Linked DNA regions of Homo sapiens: all the other regions are reported to be linked to region 3. The links are microRNA targets in miRTarBase. Many come from high-throughput screens and were not tested one by one. Region 3 holds a microRNA gene; each other region holds the end of a gene's coding sequence.

Region 1 (3,000 bases), not on the chromosome of region 3:
AATCCACTTCACAGATGAGGAAATTGAGGCATGGCAATGTGCAATAACTTACTTGGGTGCTAGAGGGAATTCAGACCTCCTTCTGAGTCCTACACATCATTCTTTCTTTTCATGCCATTTAAATGTTCTGAGATAAAAATGGATATGACTTTGTGGGGTGTGAGGTCAACCCTGACTTGTCTTACTCCCTTGTTTCCCAGACTTTTATCGGACGTTTTCGCCGCATCATGGACTCCTCACAGAATGCTTACAACGAAGACACTTCAGCCCTGGTAGCCAGGCTAGACGAGATGGAGAGGGGCTTATTTCAAACAGGGCAGAAAGGACTGAATGACTTTCAGTGTTGGGAGAAGGGGCAGGCTTCTCAGATCACAGCTTCCAACCTCGTTCAGAATTACAAGAAGAGAAAATTCACTGATATGGAAGACTGAAAGCCGGAAGAACACAGAATGGCTCCTCACAGACGTATCCCTCCGTGTGTCCTTGATAGGAGCTGGTTGACCTTGTACAGAACCAGAATCCTGTCCCATTTCATGGCTTATTTCCTGTGGCCATAGAGAATTATAGGGAACTGGACATGCTGGAGGATGTGGGTGTCCCTGGCTCTGTGAGTCTTCCAGGACCGTCCCACCCTGCTGACCCACAGCCCAGGCCCTTTAACCCAAGAACCCATGGCCAAGGAGAAATCAAAGTCCTTCCTAAATAAGAATCACTGCCATATAATATATCACAGTAGAGTTGCAACTGAGATTCCTTGTGTCTGGGAGTTTGGACAGCTTCAGATGTACAGTTTCACTAGCCACAAAGCACAGGTACAAACTGGGTCATCGCCTGTTCACAAAATGCTCTCTTGATCTTATTTGCCTCATCTTCCTCATGGTTGTACAGAGGATAGCACCCCACCATGCCAGCCTGACTTGGAGATATCTCCTGCTGCCTGCCTGCAGGGAGTTACCCCAGTTTCCAAAAACAGTCGCCCAGATAAAGGAGGAAAAGGGAAAGGCAGACGAATGGCATGGCTTTTACTAAAGAAAAGATGTTGGCCTCATACTCTATACTCAGGGCTTAATGAACTGGAATCTGCATAACTCAGCAGTCAACCCAGAAGGGAAATGGTTAAACTGAGCTTGTTATTGCCTCGGAGAGCCTAAGAGCACCCGCACACTTAATTCTACTCCCTGTCTAGAAAAGCTGTCAGGGAGTCGTTTGGAATTGCAATGTAGTTATTAAGGGCTGTTAACCAGCCTGCATTACATCTGGAAGTCAGGACTTGGGTGCTGACTATGAAGGGCCCTGTTTTCAAAATCTAACATTGCAAGTGTAAATGGGCAAGAAGCCTCCGTTGTGCTTTTTTTTTCCTCTTCAGTAACTTTTGCAACATTATTGCATAGAAGATCCCTGACCATTTACTAGGAACCTGGTTAAGCAAGCACTAATCTCTTTTCCTGGAGATCAAGGATGCAACCTCAGGTTGAGAAAGAAACAGGGTTCCCTGGGCCCATTAGACTGTTTGCAGGGCATCACTGCTTCCCCCTGACACCTCACAACTAGCAAAAATTGTCTTTGTCTTTGGAAATTATAGAGGGATTTGGGTATCCAGATTGTGCAGATGCAAACTTAGGCTGTCTTGATGCAAACTTAGAACCACAGAAATGCTTTTAAAATGCCTGTTTTAAGATGGAATTGTTGTTTTTATAATTTGATTTTAGTGCTAAATAAATGATTGGCTTTGTACATGAATATGTTCTGTACAAGTGCTCTTTCACTAGTACTACAGATAATCAAAGCTATCAGAATTGTGTCTTTGATCATATTTGACGGTAATACACAAATCCATGTTTTAGCAGCTGCTCTTTTGCTTGTGTGGTACACATAAATAGGAGGTACATTCTCTGTAGGAGGGTGCTGTGTCCTAGGAAGATGAGATTTCCATTACTACCGCAGCATTTATATATAGCCAGGGCCCGAGAAACCATTCATAGAGCGAGAAAAGCATATTATTTAACTTTTGGCATCATTCTTTTCACACATAGCTTTATATTTAAAGTCAACTCTAAGTCTGCTGCCATTTTTTCCTACTTCCTAAAAAAAAGAAATTCCTCAGGGGCCATGTGTCAGGAATATGTAGGTATTCATGTCCAAAACTTAGCCCCTATTTTACATTTTGAACAGATTATATTACATGTAGCTTTTGAACTCATTTTCAATTACAGATCTGCCTTCAAGCCTGTCGGACTTCCCCTCTCCCCAGCAGCCCTCCAGTTAGTCGTTTAGATTTTGATTTGGTCCCTTCAAGAGGTTAATTTTTCAAAAAACACAACAAATGGGCTCAAATACCAAATTGCTATCAAACTCCAGGGAGTAAAGCTGTGCCCTTTCCCCTGAAGCACTCTGTTCCCACATGACTGTGGCCTTACAGACAGAAGACCTCAGTATATATAGGTTTTTCCCAGGGACAGTGTGGGCTGCCAGGAGCAGTGGGGCAAGGCTCTGTCACTGTTGATTCCTCCTGCTGTTCGTGACCTCTGGATTTGGGTGGCTCTGGGCTGTCCATGCCTCTCCATCTCCACGCAGATGGCTCCCAAATTCCTATCTCCAGCTCAGATCGCTCCCTCCAACTCCAGACTTGTATCCAATCCCCTGCTTGATGTTTCTACGTCTCCACGGCCTGCTCCTCCTCTGATGTTTCCCATCTCCATTTTTTACAACTCCATCCTTCCCTATTGCTTAGAACAAAAACGCTATGTCCCCCCCTGACCTTCCTCCTCTCACGCTCCATATCTTTTGGGTCTGCCGTCAAATCATTTGCAGCATCCGGCCACCTCCCCATCACCTGTGGTGCTGTCACTCGGGCCAGGCCCCTACCGTTTCTTTCCTGGAGTTTTGGGATCACCCCCTAACTGCCTCCCTGCATTCACCCTCCACTCCATCTTCAGACTCTTCTCACCATAGCAGCCAGAGTGCTCTTGTTAAGAAGTATATCCAATCTTGTCGATTCTC
Region 2 (3,356 bases), not on the chromosome of region 3:
CACTTTCTTTCACACTTCTATAATTTTTTTCCCCAGTGTTTAGGGCAACACCGTAGCTTCCATCTTTTGTGTTCTAGTACATTAAGATAATGCATTAGGATGTGTATGTGTACAGTATATATGTACGTAAACACACAGGATTGTATTAAACATACTAATTTTTAAAACCAAAACAAAAAACTCTGACCTTATTTTCTAGGCAATTCGAAGTTTTCAAGTAGCCCTTCACATCTATCCAATGAACCCTGAAATATGGAAAGAAGACCTCTCTTGGGCAAGAACGCTCCAGGAGCAGCAGAAGGTAGCACAGAGGATTAAAAAAAGTGAAGCACCAGCTGAAGTAACACACTTTTCACCAAAGTCAATTCCAGACTATGACTTTGAAAGTGATGAGATTGTTGCTGTTTGTGCAGCTATTGCTGAGAAAGAGAAGACAGTTTCAGCAAATAAAACAATGGTTATTGTGTCTGCTTCTGGGGCCATAGAGACTGTAACTGAAAAGGAGGATGGTGCTACACCACCAGATGGCTCTGTTTTTATCAAAGCCCGATGAAGCAGTATGCATAGGATTATTTGAATCTGTCTTTTTGATTGCCTCTTGAAGTTTTGACATAGAGACATTTACTCTGGAGATAGATAGGAGAACGCCTGGTTGTAAAATATGTTTTTCAGATGAGGCATATAAAAACTAAAATGGCAGGATTATTGTATAGTGTTTGGAATATGCTTTGATAAGTTATGATTTATATTTCTCAAGGTTAAAATTCTGAGTAAAATGGTCTTTGATTAATAAACTTAGTTTAATCTGAATATGTAAATGAATACATTTTAAAGACAAAACTTGAAAAATGTATTCTTGAATAGTGAATAATTTGATCAATGTTACTGAAATGCTGTCTCAACTTTTGTTTTATGATAAAGGAAGTGTGTGATTTCCCTCCCTCTGAGAAATATACTGCGCTTAATATTTGCTGTCTTTTTCTTGCTTCATTAGAGTAAGTCTGTCAGAAAGCTTGAATATTTTTGACATTCATTTTGATTCAAAGTTGTCATTTGGTTATATGTGGAATCTTTGAAAGTTTGGCTGAAAATGCACACAAATGTGTACATTCTGAACATTTTCTGAAGTTTCTCTTAATTCTGATTTGTGTTTCTGTTTTGACTTTGAAGTTGTAACAATGATAGTTGTCTCCTTCAGTATTTGGTAAAAGTGTAAAGTATTGATAAATATGAGAATGATGGTTTTATTTTTTAATTGTTACAGTAAGTAATCCTTACCACAAATGAGTCATTTTTAAAATATGCATTTTTAAATGAATGGCTTTTACAGATAGGTTAATGACAATTGTACTGCTATATTATCCCAGTCAAAACCAATACTTTCTTTTCTTTATTTTACAAAGCTTTAAAAACCCTGGAAACAACTTACTTCTTGCTTGTGTCTTTCCATTTGATGACTGGGAATTACTTTTCTAGATAACTTTTTTTGAAACTACTCAGTGAAATGAAAAATAATTACAATTTTAAATAGCTAATTATATCTTTCTAAAAATAAAAAAGTAGGGCTGTTATTAGAGTGCCAATGAATAAATAACTTAAGCACAAAATACATAGAAATTGGAATGTGATTTATAGTACAATCTCATGAGTATGAAAAGGCTATATTAAAAAAAATTTTATTGAAAGTCCACAGTCATATTCACAAACCAATACTGTCATTGCTAATCTGAACTATTATTTTTATACTATATATTGTAGTACAATAATATAGAACTGTTGGGTTCTGTTACTTCTGACACTCAGGAAGATACTATTGGTGTATTAATTTTATCTTTGTTAGAGATGAAAGTAGCCCACTTTATGTTAAAGATCTTACTACTGTTGGAGCTTATAAGTAATGATCTACATTTTTTATGAAGATGGTTTTTAAAACTTTTGTTTTATTGGAATGCATATCTCTTTTCAGGGTTGGAGAAATTAGCACTTGCCTTGAAAAGAATATTCTTTCCTTAAGTTATATCATCAGAAAATTAGCTCTGGTTAGAGAGGTTAGTTTCAGAGTGCTCCAAAAAATATGTTAATTATTTTATTTTGTTTAATAAAGAACATTCTCAAAACGTAAATAGGTATCTAGAGAAGTGAGTACTCAACATTTGGTATATTGTTTTGAGTAATGGATGTTTGTTTTTTGTGTAATTTGTGAATAAATAGTTTTTTTCTGCATTTTGAAGATTTTCCTATTATTTTATGTTGTTAGCTTTTGAAAAATTAGATTGATCTACTTAGTGTCTTTCTTATATGAACTTAATATATTTAAAGTACCTTGCATGGTGCCTCACACATGAAGTAATGCCAGCTATTTCAGTAAATGCTAGCTATTTCTATGAAGAACTTGAGTTAGTTTGGAGATATTTAACCTCAATTTCCTCTGATTTTAAAAAAGGAGAACTTTTTTTGTAATCCTTTCCTTATCTGAAAGTAAGAAGTCTCTGATTCCAGTATTATAGGAGAGATAGTGGGATTTTTCTTGACAGGGTCTATAGCTCAAGTCCCAAAGAGGCAAGACTCAGGATGGAATGCATGTGGCCACTAGGCCCTGTTATAAGAACCTAGTGTTTCCTCTGTACTGGCATGGTAGGCCAAGTTAGTCTCTTTCTTACCCAGATATAAGACATAAAATAGTTTAGACATAAGACAGAGGAGAAAAAGAAACAGTAAGTTATGGAGAAGGAAGGCAGCTCATTTCTGCAGGCCCCTCAAAATGCTTATTTTAGCTCATACTCTTCTATGCGTGAAGAGAAAAATGCACCCATTATTTTACAAGGATGTGAATACTGATATACAAACATAGACTAAGCTTGTTAATTTTAATAACAAATCTTTATGAATCTGAAGAGAATTGATGTTCATGATAATGATATAGATGTTTAATATACTTTCTGAAATAACACTGTTTACTGTTCAAGTTATATTGACTATAATTTACATTATTCTTGTTTGAGAATTGTATGGCATAGACACTCATTAGTCAGAGTGTCTAGACATCCAGACCATGCCTGATAACACAAGAATCATATATCATTCTCTAGAAAACAGGCTGTTTGGTTATAGAGTATTTATCTTAAATATATTAACAGACACTACATAAACATTGAAAAGCCATGCAAGTTATAGCTCACAGGAGCCAGATCTACTGCAACTGGGGCCTACATACAAAATTTTATGGCAGTGGTTTCAGTATGACAATCTTTTGAATTGATGCCGTATGGTAAAACTATAAAGATTTTTTAAAAGCTCTGTCTCAGCTAGAATTTTTAAGATTATAACTGAACAGTATAGCCCTTTTAGTTGTTTGA
Region 3 (3,356 bases):
CTCATCCAAGTCTGATGATAAGCACGCTCTGCAAATGTATTGCCGAGATCAGCATGAACGTTAACGTTGCTTTTCTCAAACTGTAATCCTCTAAAAAGATGCACTTTCTTTTCTTTCAGACAACAGAAAGCGCTTCCCTCTAGAGGGTCACAGGCTGAGATCTTCTTGCTCCAGCACCATTGATTTTTTGTTGGAATTTTCCTTGACCAGGTTAAAATGGACACAAAAATAAAGATGCATTTATTGGCCCTGTTTGCATGATTTCTGGAATCCAGAACATAAACCCCTATCAGGGCCATCTCCAGTTCCTTGTTTCAAAAAGCAATGCCGACTATACATACCTTATATTTAACCATGAGAATTGGGCTGGATTCTAGAGAACAGCAATAGATTTTGAGCTAAGTGTTCACTCGAGTTCCAGTACAGTGACACACAGTCCCGACGGGGGCATCCAAAATGGAATCTACGATGTTGAAGAATATGCATTGTCACACACACAAACACCCTCCAGGAGAGACCACAGGCCAGGCTGTAAAAGCTCCTCAATAAAATGAGCAGAAACACACAGGTACAGGTGAGGTGTGGTGGCTCACACCTCTAAACCCAGCCCTTTAGGAGGCTGAGGCAGGAGTATCACTTGAGTTCAAGAGTTTGAGACCAGCCTGGGCAACATGGTGATACCTCATGTGTAGAGAAAACAGAAAAGTTAGCCGGGCGTGGTGGTGTGCGCCTGTAGACAGCTACTCAAGAGGCTGAAGTGGCAGGTGGAGGTTGCAATAAGCTGAGATGGCACCACTGCACTCTAGCCTGGGTGACAGACCCAGACCTTATCTAAAAAAAAAACAAAAACATACACACACAAACAAAAAATTACCCAAAGTGATACGAGAGTATTCTCTGTGTATAGAAGAGTGTTTTGTGTGTATATGACTATGTTACATGTATAATAAGAATATGATAAAATATATATTTTTGAGACCGTACATCAATAAAAATTAAGTTCCATATACTATGTGCTCACATGAAAAATAATTCCTACACATATGTGCTTGCATTGGCAGCACACATTAAAAAAAATTGGAGGCTAGGCTGGGTGGCTTACACCTATAATCTCAGCATTTTGGGAGGCTGAGGCAGGCGGATCACCTGAGGTCAGGAGTTGGAGACTAACCTGGCCATCATGATGAAACTGCATCTCTGCTAAAAATGCAAATATTAGCCAGGCGTCGTGGCACGTGCACCTGTAATCCCATCTACTTGGGAGGAGAGGTTGCAGTGAGCAGATAACATGCCACTGCGCTCAAGCCTGGGCCAGAGACAGAGACTCTGTTTCAAGAAAAAAAAAAAAAGCAAGCACGGGACCACTTGAGCCCAAGAGATCTAGGTTGGAAGCGCCACCGCACTCCAGCCTGGGCAACAGAGACCCCATGATGCAAAACAACTAAACAAAAACAGAACCCCAACATCATGCAAGTCTGATGATAAGCACGCTCTGCAAATGTGTTACCAAGATCAGCATCAACTTCAACGTGGTTTTTCTCAAACAGTAACGCTCCAAAAGAAGGCACTCTGCTTTCAGACAACAGAAAGTGCTTTCTTTTGGAGAATGACTGCATGAGATCTTCTCGCTCCAAAAGTCTGGGTTTTTTGACGGAATTTTCCTCACCTGGTTAAAATGGACACAAAAATAAAGATACATTTATTGACTCTCTCTGCATGTTTTCTGGAATCCAGAATATAAACCCCTAAAAGGACCATCTCCAGTTCCTTGCTTCAAAGGCTCAGCAGGTTAGCCTTGTTCATCAAGAGACAATCCTCCTGAGTTCTGTCCCCAAAGAGAAAAAGCAATGCCTACCACACATACCTTATATTTAACCATGAGAATTGGGCTGGATTTCTAGAGAACAGCAATGGATTTGAAGCCAAGTGTTCACATAAGTCCCAGTACAGGGACACACAGTCCCCATGCAAGCATCCAAAATGGAATCTAAGATGATGTTTAAGAATATACACTGTTGTACACACATTCTCCAGGATAGAACACAGGCTAGGCCATAAAAGCTCCTCAATAAATTTTTTTTTTTTTTTTGAAACAAGTCTCACTTTGTTGCCCAGGCTGTAGTGCAGGGCCGTGATCTCAGCTCACTGCAAGCTCTGCCTCCAGGTTTCCAGCAATTCTCCTGTCTCAGCCTCTGGGGTACCTGGGATTACAGGCACGTGCCACGATGCCCACCTAATTTTGCATTTTTAAAATTTTTTTTTCTTTTTTTTCTTTTCTTTTTGTGGAGAACAGGGTCTCACTGTATTGCCCAGGCAGGTCTCAAACTCCTGGGCTCAAGCTATCCTCCTGCCTCTGCCTCCCTAAGAGCTGGGATTACAGGCGTGAGCCACCGCGCCCGGCTAATTTTTGTACTTTTAGTAGAAATGAGGTTTCACCATCTTGGCCAGGCTGGTCTCAAACTCCTGACTCCAGGTGATTAGCCTGCTTTGGTCTCCAAGAGTGCTGAGACGACATGCCTGAGCTACCGTGCCTGGCCTGCAGACAGCTATTCCAGAGGCTGCGGTGGGGCATGGGCCAAGACTGCAACACTGCACTGCAGCCTGGGTGACAGAGCCAGACCTTGTCTCATAACACACACACACACACACACACACACACACACACACACACACGAAGGAAAAAAAACCCAAAGTGATACAAGAGTATTCTGTGTGTGTAGAAGAGTGTTTTGTGTTAATCATTATATTATCTATAGAAGATGATATGATAAAATGTGTATCATATATAAGACACTGCCCCCAGAAAAGGAAGTTCTATATACTGAATGCTCACACGAAGAGTAATTTCTCCACCTAAGTGCCTTCTCTGGCAGCATATGTTAAAAAAAAAAAAAAATGACAGCGATTCCCACGTCCCCTGCACAAAGTGACACCCAAATTCATGATGGTCCCATATTTAAAATTAGAAAAAACAAATGCCGACACCCACAGCCAATCATTTCTACTTCAAGTACATCTCAAGTATACTGTTAATCTGAAATACAAATTTAACCAGGTTTCCCTGCTCTGGGAAGCCCCCTTTGGTAATTCAGATAAGGGTCTCCTTTGGAAGGTAATGGGTAAGGAACATGGAGATGTCAGCCAAGGGAAGTGACTCTCAGGGATTTCTATGGATTATGCAGACGCCCAGCCAGATCCCAAACTTCCCCAAAAGATCCCAAGTCCAGGCAGGAAGGACCACTGGGCTCCAGAAACCAAATGAAGTGGCCCTGGGCAGGAGTCTCTGTTGTCAGATTCCATGACTAAGACAGCCAGGGAGCAGAGTGAAAATCCCAGGGGCTCTCTCTCCCAGAAGA

What was found. Region 3 holds the annotated microRNA hsa-miR-515-5p (UUCUCCAAAAGAAAGCACUUUCUG, at 1,584-1,607, opposite strand). A microRNA usually pairs through its seed, bases 2 to 8, with sites in the 3' UTR of a target mRNA and lowers its output. Matches are read on the target gene's strand: a 7mer-m8 pairs with bases 2 to 8, a 7mer-A1 pairs with bases 2 to 7 and ends in A, and an 8mer does both.
Region 1: the mRNA of GINS3 is a reported target of hsa-miR-515-5p. Seed matches in the 3' UTR shown: 7mer-m8 at 918-924.
Region 2: the mRNA of TTC33 is a reported target of hsa-miR-515-5p. Seed matches in the 3' UTR shown: 8mer at 1,969-1,976, 7mer-m8 at 2,403-2,409 and 7mer-A1 at 2,723-2,729.

What each region holds. Positions count from the first base shown.
Region 1 is chr16:58,404,299-58,407,298 of GRCh38, forward strand. It overlaps GINS3 (GINS complex subunit 3), which reads left to right. Exons shown (of 3, transcript NM_022770.4): 3 at 201-1,849. The coding sequence ends at 431. Among named protein-coding and RNA genes, the nearest start is that of GINS3, 13 kb to the left of the region's middle.
Region 2 is chr5:40,713,342-40,716,697 of GRCh38, reverse strand. TTC33 (tetratricopeptide repeat domain 33) reads left to right here. Exons shown (of 5, transcript NM_012382.3): 5 at 200-3,356. The coding sequence ends at 553. It also overlaps a transcript of PTGER4 not described here. Among named protein-coding and RNA genes, the nearest start is that of PTGER4, 35 kb to the right of the region's middle.
Region 3 is chr19:53,683,273-53,686,628 of GRCh38, reverse strand. MIR515-2 (microRNA 515-2) reads right to left here and starts at 1,620; the gene lies at 1,538-1,620. MIR519C (microRNA 519c) reads right to left here and starts at 160; the gene lies at 74-160. All of the region lies in intron 2 of LOC107985342 (a long non-coding RNA gene), which reads right to left.